Homo sapiens: one gene and its partner. The protein of the gene in region 2 purifies or fractionates together with the protein of the main gene of each other region. This does not show direct contact. Each region holds a gene or a part of one and is shown on either strand. Other genes may lie near its edges.

Region 1 (7,417 bases), on a different chromosome or scaffold from region 2:
ATGTTCTGGAGCTGAAACTCCAACAGAAAAGCTCTAGAAGTGTTCCATGCAAGAATATAAATATTCAAATAAGTTTATAACCATCTAAAACAATTTTGAAGGCTAATAAAATATATATAATTTGGGATGTTTATTACAAGTAAAGGTTGAGTGCATACGTGTACGTGTGTGTGTGTGTGTGTGTAACAGTCCATGAAAATATACTTTCCCACATGGTTATTAATCTTTAAGAGGGTGCCAAGTGACATCTCACAAAATGTATTCTCCTCTGCACTATGCAGTATTCAAGAAAATGACATGAGCTTTGTACAATCTTATGATTTTATTGTTAGAGGTCATGTTAAACTAAGAAAATAGTAATTTCAGCTCAAATGTGAGTTAAATCATCAAGTTAAAGTAAAGCTTTTTATTAAGTGAAGCTCTCTCTGCAGAATATCTCACTTAATATACATAACATTTAAATAGACTACTAAAAAAGTGACAGCTGAGGAATGCTTTCACTTCTTTCCATGGTTTCTACTGAATGTCATTTCAGAAATGCCTATACAACACATGACAATGTGGAATGTCTCCTCCCATGAAAGAGCATTTGAGTTGAGCAGCAAGCACACTTAGGGCAGTAACACAGAACTCAAGCGTGTCTTTTTATGGTTAGCCAGCATAACAATGCAAAGATAAACAACCAAAACACTAATAAGGTCAGAAAATACTGACATAGAGGGAGCCATAGTAAAAATGTTATTTGGAAAAAAAAAGTATCAGTAAAATAACAGAAAATATGCATTATTTCTAATATTACCATGCTAGAGATTTCTTTTCTTTTTCTTTCTTTTCTTTTCTCTTTATTGGTAGAGACACCGTCTCCCTATATTGCCCAGGCTGGTCTTGAACTTCTGGGATCAAGTCTCTTGCCTTGGCTTCTCAAAGTGCTGGGATTACAGGTGTGAGCCACTGCATCCAGCCTAGAGATTACTTTTCTAAATGAACACTCAAGGATTTGTTTAAAGAATTTTTAAACTAAGTTACATAAACTGAAGCGTCTATTGATAATCAGTAATAGATCTCATTTCAAAAATAAATCTAACATCCCAATAATTTTTTTCTTTAAGACAGAATCTCGCTCTGTCGCCCAGGCTGGAGTGAAGAGGCATGATCTCAGTTCACTCCAACCTCTGCCTCTTGGGTTCAGGCGATTCTCGTGCCTCAGCCTCCTGAGTAGCTGGGATTACAGGCATGCGCCACCATGCCTGGCTAATTTTTATTTTGTATTTTTAGTAGAGATGGGGTTTTGCCATGTTGGCCAGGTTGATCTCAAATTCCTGAGCTCAGGTGATCCGCCTGCCTAGGCCTCCCAAAGTGCTAGGACTACAGGCGTGAGCCACCATACCCAGCCACCTAATAAATGTTTTGATTGTAATAATGGCTACCTTTACATTGTAAGTATTATAAAAGTAAGTGGTTGATATAAGCTTTTTTATTAGGACATTTTAAAAGTTTGTCAGTGTGTTACACTTACCCAATTATTTAATATTCTATGAATTCTGCTCTTCAAAATATTAGTTTACATTGTGTCCAATTTTTTTTAATCATTAAATATTTATTGTGTACCTACTAAAACAAAATGCCGATACAAAAGGAGATTTAAAGAAAAAAAGAATCAAAGTCCCTACCTTAAGGGTATATAAGGGACTTCTTCCCCCCCACCCCCAGTATCCATGGTATGAAGTTTCCTACAATTTGTCTCTAAAAAGAATCAAATATGTACATGTACGTATGTATAAAAAATTTACTGTAAATGATTAAAAAAAACTAAAACAGGCTAAGTGCAGTGGCTCACGCCTGTAATCCCAGCACTTTGGGAGGCTGAGGTGGGAGGATCACTTGGGCCCAGAAGTTTGAGACTAGCTTGGGCAACACGGGGAGACTCTGTCAAAGAAAAAAAAAAATTAGCTGGAAGTGGTGGCACATGCCTGTATTCCCAGCTGATCGGGAGGCTGAGGTGGGAGGATCACTTGAGCCCAGGAAGGCTACAGTGAACTATGTTCATGCCACTGCACTCCAGCCATGGTGACAGAGTCTGTCACCCTGTCTCAAAACACACATACACACACCACACCCACACACACACCCAACAACTGAAACGATATAAATTGCTATTAGGGTAAAGAAAAATAAAGGTAGTTAAAAATTAAATTCTATGTCCTGAAAAAAGGAGTGTTTCTTGTTGCTGCTGATATATTCTGCACATAATGGTAAGTCAAAAATAATCTTGGCACTTCCTAAAATTTAGGACAATTTCGAATTCTGAGATTAATTTAGATACAGTACTACTGCACTTCAATTACCATAGAAAGGTCTTAAAAGTATGGGCTAGCTAAAACAAATGTGGATGAAGAAAAAAATTATATGTGTGTTTCACTTGATTTTCAGCTAATTTACAGAGAAACCTCCAATTACTAAACACCACCATAATGATGAAAAGATTTAAGAATATTTTCTTCTTCAGACTTCAAAGAAGATACCTGGCATAGGGTAAAGTTTGAGTTTCGGCATCAAACAGACCTGCATAAGAATTCCAGCTCTGCCATTTATTTTCTTGTTAACTTTGAGCAAGTGAAAAAGCATGTTGTGAAAATTAAACTATTGTTTGGAAAAGCACTGCTCCTCAATAAAACACTGATTAAGTCATGGCTACTACATATCTGACTCCAACTGAGAATAAACTTATAATTGTTGGAGTTCTTCAACCTTTCAAAGAGGTATACCAAAATGCCAATACCTCATCATCTTCTCAACCTTATTGTGGAGCCCCACAAACTTTCAAAAGAAGGGTGGAGTAAAAGATGGCAATTTTTTGCAGGCAGAGGCAATGAAAATAGCAACTTCATATAGTGTCAAGAAGTAACATGTTATGGTAGTAACAAAACAACGTTTTATGCCTCCCCCTATTAAAAGGTTTTTAAATAGTTTTCTTTTAAAAATCATCTAATAAGATTTTTAAAACACTTTTCTTATGTGAACTGTAATTTTTAAATGTGGTAATAACAAATGGATGATGAAAAACACTTCCTCTATTCCATCCAGTGTTTCTACCTGGCTATAGAAAATGCTCAGTCACAGCTTGCAATCATACTGTAGCTGAGGCACATGAAAGATGGTCTTGGTTATGACACCTCAAAGTCAGACCACAAAAGTGTTGCCAGGAAGCACAGAGGCAGCAACTACAGAAAAAGCATTAGAACAGCAGCAGTGTGGGCACTGGTGCCCTACCAGCACACCCCATATATGGCTAGGGTTGCCCACTTATTTGTAGGAAGTGAGGGGCCAGTTTGGGGTTGGGAGGGTTTTATTTGTTTGTTTAGGTAGGTTTTTAAAAATGGATTTAGGATGATTTCAATAAAAACTTTTGAAAGGCATGAGCATAAAGTGTTACAGCTTTTCTAAAAAGAAAACTATGCAGAGAAATATTTTACACTGCACATTCTTTTAGACACAAATTTTAATGCTCTTTAAAAGTTATCCAGTAGGTTCTTCCAAGATCTTAACATTCTCCATCAAAAAAAGGGTAAACAGTTACAAACTATAAACTCTTAATTCAGATTTTACATAGTAATCAAACTATTTGCTAACAAGCAACTCAAAATTAATTGCTTCCAGTCTCTTTTACACTTCACATCTTAAGAAGACTACACAAAAGTATTCCCTTTACTGACGAGAGGATCACATATTTTACAAAGATGCTTAAAATGGCTCCCTTAGAAGTAGATCAAATTTGTATTTTAAAAGCAAAAGGATTTCATATTAAACCTATCTGTAAGTCTGTCTGTTTTGGAAAGTAAAAGAAAAACTATTTTAAAATTCTAATAGCATAGAACATGGAACTAATTCTACTTTGTATTCCTCTAGAAGTGGTACCCAACCTTGGCATCAGGAACTAGTTTTGTGAATGACAATTTTTCCACAGATGTGGGTTGGGGAGTGGGGCCGGATGAAACTGTTCTACCTCACATCATCATCAGGAATTAGATGCTCATAAAGAGCACACAACCTAGATACCTCAGAAGCGCAGTTCACAATAGGGTCCGCACTCCTATGGGAATCTAATGCCGCTGCTGATCTGACAAGAGGTGGATTTCAGGCAGTAATGCTAGCTTGCCAGTGTGTCGCTCACCTCCTGCTGTGTGGCCTTGTTCCTCACAGGTCGTGGATCGACCTGTCCACGGCCCAGCGTTTGTGAACCCCCGCTCTAGAGGATCTAGCTCAGACTCTTACAAAGTGAGTAATTAATTAGTGACTCAACTGGATATAATATTTTTCTACCACTTAACCAATATCTAGACTGCTTTAAAATTTAATAGAAAGGAGGTCGATATTAAGAATTTTTTAGGCCGGCCACAGTGGCTCACACCTGTAATCCTAGCACTTTGGGAGGCCAAGACGGGCGGATCACTTGAGGTCAGGAGTTCGAAATGAGCCTGGCCAACATGGTGAAACCCCATCTCTACCAAAAATACAAAAAAAATTAGCCAGGCATGGTGCCACGCACCCGTAATCCCAGCTACTTGGGAGGCTGTGGCAGGAGAATCACTTGAACCTGGGCGGCGGAGTTTGCAGTAAGCCAAGATTACACCACTGCACTCCAGCCTGGGTGACAGAATGAGACTCCATCTCAAAAAAAAAAAAAGATTTTTTTAAAATCTCAAGATATTAAAATATATTGAAATCTACAACAAAGTTTTTAATTTGTTTCATAATCACACAAATTCCATTATGTGCAAGAACAATACGCTAAGTATCTGATGCGAAGGTTTCAAAAATATATCTCACAACATAAAAATAACTCTAAAACTTCCTATTGATGAGGTAAAAAGATAAAAATTCAATAAACCTTTAGTGAGCATCTACTATGTGCTAGGCTCTGGAAATACAAAAATTGTGGAAGATTAGGTCCTCAGAGGCTACAAGGGAAGACAAACACAAACACTATTCAGTAAAAAGTGTTTTTATTGCAGGAGAGGCAGAATATAAGGTACAGTGAACACCCCAGAAAAGAGAATGTGAATCTTGAACAATGACTAGAATTTTAATTGGCAAACGAGGGAGAGAGGATAAAAGGCATGGCTAAAGGCATGGAAATAAAAAATGTAAAGATCTAGTTGAAACGTAAGCAAGTTAACCAATTTCTATAAAGGATACAACACAATGGAGATGTATCAACCATAAGCTAAATGATAAAATGTACTATATCCAAATTTAGAGAGAGGAATAACACCATCAAAATGATACTGTTCAAAGATTAATATGACAGCAATATGCATGCTAGATTAAATAAGGGAGAGAATAGAGGCAGGAAAAACAATTAAGCTATTACTATACTCTAGGGATAAAAATAAGGCTAGGTGCGGTGGCTCACGCCTGTAATCCCAGCACTTTGGGAGGCCGAGGCAGGTGGATCACCTGAGGTCAGGAGTTCGAGACCAGTCTGATCAACATAGAGAAACCGCATCTCTACTAAAAATACAAAATTAGCTGGGCATGGTGGCACACGTCTGTAATCCCAGCTACTTGGGAAGCTGAGCCAGGAGAATCGCTCGAATCCGGGAGGTGGAGGTTTCAGTGAGCCAAGATAGCGCCATTGCACTCCAGCCTGGGCAACAAGAGCAAAACTCCATCTCAAAAAAATAAAATAAAATAAAATAATAAAGGTATGAACTAGGTTGCCAGTAAAAAGTGGCAAAGAAAAGAACTGATGCCAAGGTAATTGTAAAGAAAAGACTGAGCTAGAAGACAGACTGGATTATGCATAGACAAGGGGAATGAGTAAACAATAACTAAAATGTTTAACTTGATTCTAAAGATTAATACATCATTAACAGAAACAGGAACATCAATGAGAAGAGTAGACTTGATGAAGAAAGATAGACCTGTTTTAGGTTGAATTTAAAGAAATTCCTGACGATGTAAAATTGTCTTACCACCAAATTAATAATACTTTTAAAATAATTAGTTAAAAAGGATGCTGGTAAAGTCTAAAGATAAGTATCTCTAATGTTAACGGATAAACGTAAAATTATAATACTGAATTGCAACTATGAAAATCTATATTTGAACAATAAGAAATCCTTTGAAGAAATCACAAAGGTTAACGTGAATACAGTAGTTGCCATTCTATGGCAAAGGGGGTGAACTTGTATTTACTATATTACTACTTAAAAGACATTATTAAATATAAAATTACAATACATTTAATATTTCATTTCAAATCAATACATAACCCCAAAAAATGGAAATGAGGCTTGGAGCTTTGCAGAAATGAGGGAACTGTAAACTGACTTGGAAGTCACTGGCACAGAGGAAAAAGAAAAGATTTTAAGGCTAAAATCAACAGGCTAAACTCAAAACTGCTGGAGAAAAATCTCAGCCCTGTATTTTATGCACACCAGTATCAGTAAGAATCAGCAATAAGGCATTCTATATATAACTTTATTAATCTCCTTAAATCTTTACAAAATATGCTAAAATAGAGATATAATCACATACTGTAAAACTCTACCAGGTAGCTATAAAATCAGAAGCTGATTATTGCCCCATTGGTAATAATGAAATTCTACTCTAGACCTCGGTTCTAGAAAAACCAGAAATTTGTATCTATGGTTAACTTTGTGCTGTTTTGTAGCTTTGGGGGTCAGGTCCTGGGTAGAGTGGGTGGGGGAGAAAGGCTACTCTGGAGACTAAGATAGGAAATTTGACAAGAAACGCTGCTTTTTCTTCTATACAGAGGACACATTTCTATACAAAAAGAACAGCTGAAGACTGGATATCTTTTATAACTTCTAATGAGGTAGCACATTCAACAAATTAATAAACCTTTAAATATAAGCTCTTTAAAGTAAAAGCAAAATATTCGATTTTCAAAAGCATATTTGTGGGTTGTGATGTTCCTAAAACTTTTCTCTTGACAATGAAATTTAGAACACTTGATCAAAACCAGAAAGTAAATGAATATTCAAAAAACAATCAACAATTAACCCCGTTATACATTTTAGGTATTCTACGATCTTTTGAGAGGTTAAAGTTTTAAAGAACTATTCAAGGACTATTAAATCAGTGATTTTAGTTTTTACAATTAAGTATGGAAAACAAGCTAAGTTCAAGAGATTTCTTAAAGGCTTAAAATTTTCTTGTGTGTGTGTGGTTTTTAATTTTATTTATTGTCTTTCACTAACTGTTGTCCTAAATTTGCCCAAAGTGAACTCCCTGTTTTCATAGTAACAATGGGAAAAAAGTACAAGAGTTGATAAATAAGAAATGAGAGTGAAGAAAACATAACACAAATTTTTAATGCTTGATATTTTAAAGACTTTGGCTTCACCGATTTAAGGCATTTGCAGATATGGAAAAATGTTATGGAAAAGGG
Region 2 (7,703 bases):
TGGATGAGTACAAGTTACTACAACGAGGGTGGGAGGGAGGGAGCTCTTCGGCTTCTGTCTTCTTCTCCTTAGAAGTACCATTGGCTCTAACCTTCCTGGTCTCTCTTCCCGCCTGCCGCATCTTCTAGGTGATTTTGCAAGGAGAAACGCACGTGCATGGCATAGCCCTTCTTTTCTAGGGCTCTTCTGTACCAGGAGCCTCACAGGTCCTGCCTGCCAGTGACTGGGTAGGGAAGTCCAGCACTGTGTGTCATCTCAGAAAGCCCTTCATTAGGACTATAATACTGTATTATAGACTGAAAATTTGCTGAGAGTAGATTTTAGGCGGTTTCACAACAAAAAAGGGGGGAGGTAACTGCAAAATGATAGGCCAATTTGATACCTATTTCATTATGTGCATCAAAATACCATGTTGTTCACCTCCTATACATACAATTTAAAAAATTTAAAAAGCCCACTCACCCAAAAACATATGCTATGCATTTTCATAGCAGCTTTTCTAGTAATAAAATATTATGACACCCATCTGCCAAGTCAGGGAAGGCAATCTCAAACTCCTGGACAGCACCCATCCAAAGGCACAGTGAGTGCTCAGCACATAGCGGCCCCAGATGGCCCCTCAGATGGCGTCCACAGCCACCAGGGTCACTGCTCTGATTGCGTGCCTCCAATTCTTGGCCTTCACCCTGCCCCTTGACCCCAAGGTTTCTGGTCTTCCTCCCTGCCAGCACCTTCTTCTTCCCTTGGCTGACCTCTTCTCAACAAAACTCCAAATACTGGTACACTCCAAGTGCAGCTCAGGCTAAACAAAGCCTTTTGCTCTTCTTCAAAGCTCCTGGAGTTCACATCCCTATCCAATCTCCCACCTGTGAGTTCAAGTGCCCTCAAACCCCTCCCATCCCCCAGCCAGTCAAGCCCTGACTTGGAAGTCACCTTTTATCTAGGTTTTAATTTCAGAGAAACAACGGATAATTCATAATGTAAGTACATCCTAAACACTGCAGCAGACAAAAATACTGCCTATCTGAAATTTCAGTGGGTTCACTGTATTGATAAATCTGGCATCACTACTTGTGTCCCTTCTCTACATTCATGCTCACATCCAGACACATCTAAGATCCCAACCCTCTGGCACTCTCATCTCTTAGCTCAGACAGAGCCCACTCCACCCCGCAGGCCCCTTTCTACCAAACCCTCTCCTGGCACCCATCACCTCACACAGCATGGCCCCATGAGGCACCAACTCCTCCCCTGCTTCTCTACACTTGCCCTGTACATGACCACCCTGGCCATGGGGCCTTCCACCCCCGCAAGAGCATGCATAGCGCAGCTCACTCAATCTGGTCCTTCACCTCCCTTCCCTGACCACACCATCTAAAAAGCCTGCCGCCTAACCCTGCTCTTCCCTTGCCCAACCCTTGCCTCATCTTTGCCCCTTTTCTCTTCCTCCAGCAAGGACAGTAGATGTTAACTGTTACATAAACTACTTTATTTAAATAAAACCAGGAAAGACCCTTTCCCCCTTACACACCAGCACATGCACACACGCACACCCACACCCTCCCTCCCTTTCGGCTGTCTGCCCATGGCCACCTCAAACCCCGAGGTTCTCATTGTGACCAACCTCCCTCAACCTGTAGACCCCCGTGCAGAGTCCAGTTGCCCACGCATCCCGGTTGCTGGCAGAACATGGGCCTAGAAAAGAGCACTCCATCTTCCTGGGGTGGGTCAAAAGGAAGGACTGGTTCTCCCAAGGCACCCAGATCTGGTGTGGCTTCCCTACAAACTGGGAGCACTGCCAGGCAGCTGGAGCTGCTCCCTGCGGAGGGCAGAACTTTTCACCCCAAGCCAACCCCTCCCTGTAACAAAGGAAGTAAGAGGGTTGGCAGCCAAGCTTCAGTGTGCCCCGAGGGATCCTGCAGTAGGTATTTTCAGTTTGGGGAAGAGCAAGGGAGAGCAATTGAGCACCAAATTCCCTAACCCCGTCCTGCAGGAGGGTGCTGAGTCAGTTCAGCATCCTCTACCCAGAAAAAGTAAACACAACTGTGCAGCAAGAGTGAGGGTGGGAATGACAGGGGCCTAAGCCTTCAGGACCTCATGACTTCACCCCCAACATGGGCCCTCTTAGGGACCCACTAGCACCTTGGCAATGTTGAGGACCCAGCCCAGCGGAAACACCATACCCACAGGAGCCAGTCTGGAGTTGGTGATGCTCCCTATGTTGACAGTGGGGTTGGGTTTCTCTCCCTGACACCAGCTTCCTGCAGGCCCTGTAAGTTCTGCTTTGGGGCACACATCGCAGAGTGCCTCAGGTCATGAAAGGGAATGCTGAAGGGAAAGGTGGTGTCTTCCGGAGGCACACAGTACATCTTACAGGTTACACACGGGCAGGCTGGAGCAGGACGGGGGGCAGGGCTCAGCAGCATACCTAGGGTACCCTCCAGAGTTGCCTTGGGAAGGGGGGCGGGGCTGGAAACCAACGGGAGGGGTGACTGTCCATCCCCTCCGACGGGAGTACTCAGGCCCAGCACCCATTTTCTCTGATGAGCTTCCCAGTGCCTTCTAGACCAAGTTCCCTGAGGGAAAAAGCCAAACAGATGGAAAGAGAGGGAGCAGAAAGGGAAAGCAAAGGGTCAATGCCCTGCAGATCGTGATGAGCTGGCAGGCAGAGGCAGACAGAGCGCCGAGGGCGAGCCTTCTGAATGGGTAAGGCAAAGAGAGCCGCCTGCTGAGGGGAAGGGGGAGGCTGTGAGAACGCCAGGGCAGGCACAGAGGACTCGAACACAGCTGGCCTCTCCCAGGGAAGCACTGGAGAAGGGGACCTTCGGGAAGACGAGGCCCCAGAGGAGAGGGCGTGAGAAGACTGTGGGCCCCAACCGGCCCGTGGTGGCAGATTCAAGCCAGGAACCCTGGCCCCTCGGCTACAGGCTGACGCTGCGCTGGTGCCGACCCCCACGGGCTCCGCCGTCGCTGCCCCGGCGCCCTCCACTCCGCGTTCCCAGCTCTTGGCCGTCCAGACTGACGTGGTCCGAGAGGCCTCGCAAGTGCTCCACGGAGTCGCACTTCTGCAGGTCTGAAGCCACCGTGCGCAGGCTCAGCAGACTCAGGGTATCGGTGTCGGGGGCGGGGCCGGGCCCCAGGCTGCTGCCCTCCTCCAGCCCCGCACCCTCGGCCCCCTCAATCCCGCTGTCTCCGTCCTCCATGTCCTCGGGTCCTGCCTCGGCCCCCACGGGGGAGGAGCGCCGAGGGCCCAGGGGGTGGGGAGGCAGACCCCCGCGGCGCCGTGCGTGAATCTGCTCGCTGATCTGCTCCAGGTTACGAAGGGCCACGGAGTAGCGCGTCTTGGCCTGAGCTACCTGCTGCTCCAGTTCTGTCACCTTGGCCTTGTGCTCCTGCAGAGGGCAGAGCAGAGCAAGGCGACCCATGGGGCACGTCTCCACCTTCCTCAGCACTCTGCACTGAGGTCTGAGGGCCTGCTCTCCCAGAATACCTGGACAGCTGGCTCAGCATCCACCACAGACCCACAACAGCCTTCCCTGCTCCACTCTCAGCACCCACCACAGACCCACAACACCCTTCCCTGCTCCACTTGCTCTGCGTTGTTCCTCCCCAGCAATCCTGCTCCTGACCTGAGCCCCACCTTCCAGAGCCTTCCTCTCAGGCCTTCCTCTCCACCAGCTCCTGCTTCCTCATCCTCTCCCCACTGTTCCCTTTCACCCAATGGCTGGTTCTTCTTCCCCATCCCAGATTTCCACCAGTTCTTTTCCTCTTGTTTACCTCCCTTCTTCCAACTACGTTCTCGCCGTCACCAGCCCCCATCACCAGCCCCCATCCCTGCCTCTCACTCCTGCAAGGTCATTTGGAACATGTGTGCCACCACCCTTCCCCACCGCTAGCCGGAGGCCTCACCCTGGCCACCTCACCAAGATGGCCCAGAGAGGCCGACCAGCATCCCCTCCAGCCTGCACCCCCACCTACCCATTCCTCCTCCCCCTCACCCACTCAGCTACCTCCAGGATCTGGCTGAACTGGGCCTTGAGCTCAAAGTAGGGGCGGCTCTTGCCGATGGCCCTCCGGAGGGTCTTCTGCAGGGCTTGGACCCGAGCCTCAGCCTGTTGGCACAGCCGAGTCACTCGCTGGTGCTCCCGCTCACCTCGAAGCCGCTCTTCCTCCGCCTCATTCACCTGGCCCAGAGGACACATCACTGAGCCAGGACCCATGCTTCAGTCTCTGGCATCTGCCCCAGGCTGCCAATCTGAACAACGCCCTGGGGGGAACCCAAACAGGAACATCCTCTGCAAACCCCCAACTGTGTACAGAGCCCGAGACACGCAGGGGAACACGGGGTCTATGAGCCTCAAGACAGCTTATTTCTGTCTCTCTTGGATCTGCTGCCTGACCGTCGAGGACCACATCACAGGCACATGCCTCTGAGCCACGTCTTCCCCATGTTCTTGCCTAGTGTCACCTGCACCACTGGCTACTCAGCTTTGCTGCTGCCAGGAAAGGGATGCTGGTGCCCACTCAACCACTTGAGAGCATCAGGGGAATGTCTGTCAGCACATCACACATCTGCAGCAGCCATTCTCTTCAGGGAGCCCTCAGCGCCAATGGTTAGGGATCTGGGAGTGAGAAGAGCCTGTGTGGGGAGCCACAGCTGTGCGCTGGGTTCTCCAGGTTTCCACACCCTATGTGGGCACCGTCCAGGACAAGTGGGCCGAGGTTGGATGGGGCTCTGGCGTGCTTCTGCTCAGGGTGTTGTACAGTTGGCCCACTTGTCCTGGTAGACAAAGCGGCTGGAGCCCTCACCTGCTCCCTGTTCAGGTGTAGCTCTACACTATACACCATCCCCTAACCCCTCCCCCCGTGCTGTGTGCTCTCATTTGCATGAGCTCTAGAGTAGAAGTGAGGTGCCTGTTCTGTGTGAGGGGCAGATGAAGAATCACAAGCCACAAACACCCCCTCGAGTTGCTGACACCTGCCCTGTGCAAGCTGAAGGTGGCAGACAGGGCCAACGGCAGAGATCCTTCCGCTCCCCAGTCCCCTTTCAGGAGCTTGGAAATGATACATAAATTATACTTCAAAACTCGAGGTGTACTGTCAGAGCTCAAAAGCAGGAAAGGGAGCAGACTCTGAAAACAGAAGCGAGGAGTCACACAGCTAAACATAATAAAATGTGAATGTTGAATCCTCAGTATCCACCAGGGATGAATTGTTTGGGTTAGTCCCACACCTGGAGGCAAACGTTCAAGAAGAGCCCGGGATGACATTCTAAGTCAGAGGGAAATGGAATATGGGAAGCAATGGAGGCCAAACAGAACAGAAAACTAGGAACAGGTTTTGCCTGAAACAGAATCAAAGTTGAAAGAAGGCTAGAATAGAGGGAAGAATGAGGAGGTGAGGTGATAAAGACATAGCAAAGGATGGACGAGAACCAGCGAAGGGGACCTGCTGGCACCGCCCGGCTCACCTTGCAGGTAGCATGGTTCAGCATCTCCTGCCACGTGGGGTCCAGTCGGTTCTTGTCAGCCATGACGCCCTGCTCAGCCACAAACACCATTTCTCGAGCAGCGTTGTGCATGCTTACGGCCCGCTCGTACCGCAGCGCTGCCTTCTGTGTCTCCTGCTGAGCCTGGGGGGAGAGGGATATCAGGATGGGGAACCCTGAGGGACCCCAGCTGCCCATGGAGACCCATAATAGACGTGAGGATAAGAGAAGGAGGAAGGCCTACTAGCAATGTCGGCTTCATTTCCCAAACTGTGCTGAGGATAAATGCCAAGGAAGCAACATTCTATAAAGAATATTTCATAAGGATATGGACTAGAAGAAATAAAAATTTTGCCAGTGGAGGGTAGATGTGTGAAATCCAGCACTCCCAAAGGCTGCTAGCCTTTTCCCCTAGGGAAAACAAAGGAAAACACAAACCATTTTAGTGTAAGGTGGTTAGCAACATAGACAGAGTCTTACAGAAAAGATGACCTTGAGACCATCAATTCCATGTTCAGCAGGCAAGCTGAAGGAAGTAATCAGACAAGTGCTCAGGGACAGTCATCATAGCCATACCAACCAAGCAAAAAACAAAACAAACCTAACTTTTCAGTTATAGGACATCGGTTAAATAAATAATAGTACATCTAATATAAGAAAATAAGCTGGGCGCAGTGGCTTCTGCCTGTGAGCCCATCTACTTGTGAGGCTGAGGGAGGAGGATTACTTGAGCCTAGGAGTTTGAGGTTACAGTGAGCTATGATCACACCATTGCACTCCAGTCTGGGCAACAGAGCAAGACCCCATTTCTTAAAAAAATAAAATATTAATCAGTCCTTTAAAATGACGGCTTGGATGTATAGTTATTGACATGGAACCATGTCATAATGCTAATAAAAGAACAAAATAGCACATACTGTGTAATCCCATTTTGGCTGGATATACAAGGACACGAAATATGATTAATACAGCACACATGGTTATCTGTGCTGTATTAATCATATTTTTATTTTCTATACTTTATGATGCTTTCATGTCTTGGGGGACCTTGCTGGCCAAGGACAAACTGCCCCTTCCAGGGCTAATTCCTAGAAACAGTAAACTCCCCTGTAAGTGTGCCTTTCATATGCAAACCAACCACCTAATCCAAAGCCTGGATCCCCAGCTAACTCCTTTACCTACTTCTCCCCGACCAAGCCGATATTTCCTCTGCCCTAAGTCATCCCAGGGCCAGGTACTAGACAATTAGAGGCCGCCCCTATAGCCCAGGGCCTAGCAAAGTTATTCCAACTATCCACTCCTAAACTTATCCAAACTTGCCTACCCTGCCTCACCTACTCCTTTCCACGAAAACCACACTAAGGCGCTGCGCTTTGCTTTCTCCTTCACTTCTGCCTCCTGAAGGACCCTGGCTGCTTCCCCGTGTGGCCCTGCATGGCATGGATGTCCCCTCCTCTCGGGAACAAACTCTTCTTCCAAGGCAGTTGTCTGTATCTGTCACCTCACCATACAGGATGACAACAAATCCCAGGAAACAAAATGCATGAAACGTGCATGGTAGGATTTTGGGTGATTTTTGTTTCCTTCTTGTTTTATTATGTTTTTCCAATGGTGAACACATATTATTTGTTAAAAGTAATTTGTTACAGAAAAAAGGGGTGTGGGATGGGGAAAAGAGTGAGGAGTAAGCAAAGAAAAGATTCAGAAGAGAGACATGAACCAAAGGGAAGAGGAAATGGGCGCAGATGAAAACAACAGGATGTTAGAACTGACATATCTGATATACCCTAAAGCCTGATTCCTGATACACAGAAGGCACTTAAACATTAGCAGGGCTGAACTAAATATTCTCCCACAGCCACCCTCACCATTTTATAGACCATAAGCCCAGAGCCCACGTGGTAAAGGAACCTCCTGAGCCCACAGAGCTGGTTCCGACCAGCCAGGTCTAGCCCAGGGCTCTGCCCTCAGGGTCTGGTGTTTTGTCTCTCACTCCATATAGAGACAGAAGAATCCAGGGCCAGGCTCAGCACGTAGCCTTCCTCAAACGTGGTCAGCCAGCCATACCTCCTTAGCCAGCCGCCGAGCCTCATAGTAGGGCCGGGCTTTCTCGATGCAGCTCCCCAAGTGGGAACCCTGTGTATTCAGTTTCCTCGCCGACTCCTGTAGGATCCTCCGATAGGTGGTCCTGGCCTCCTGGAAAGGAACAAGGCAG

The links. Proteins that work in one complex are often made in the same cells at the same time.
Region 1: the proteins of SH3BP5L (region 2) and PPP1R12A purify together in Homo sapiens (affinity purification with mass spectrometry; 2 studies listed by BioGRID and IntAct, with this or other methods). This does not show direct contact.

The regions. Positions count from the first base shown.
Region 1 is NC_000012.12:79,925,098-79,932,514, forward strand, and holds part of PPP1R12A (protein phosphatase 1 regulatory subunit 12A), read right to left. Parts: intron 1-7,417. UniProt on the Homo sapiens protein: Key regulator of protein phosphatase 1C (PPP1C). Mediates binding to myosin. As part of the PPP1C complex, involved in dephosphorylation of PLK1. Capable of inhibiting HIF1AN-dependent suppression of HIF1A activity.
Region 2 is NC_000001.11:248,808,979-248,816,681, forward strand, and holds the end of SH3BP5L (SH3 domain-binding protein 5-like), read right to left. Parts: intron 7,685-7,703; coding exon 7,556-7,684; intron 5,900-7,555; exon of another isoform or gene 5,751-5,899; coding exon of another isoform or gene 5,733-5,750; intron 5,633-5,732; coding exon 5,471-5,632; intron 4,268-5,470; exon of another isoform or gene 4,221-4,267; coding exon of another isoform or gene 4,185-4,220; coding exon 4,011-4,184; intron 3,393-4,010; coding exon 2,922-3,392; 3' UTR 1,468-2,921; downstream 1-1,467. UniProt on the Homo sapiens protein: Functions as a guanine nucleotide exchange factor (GEF) for RAB11A.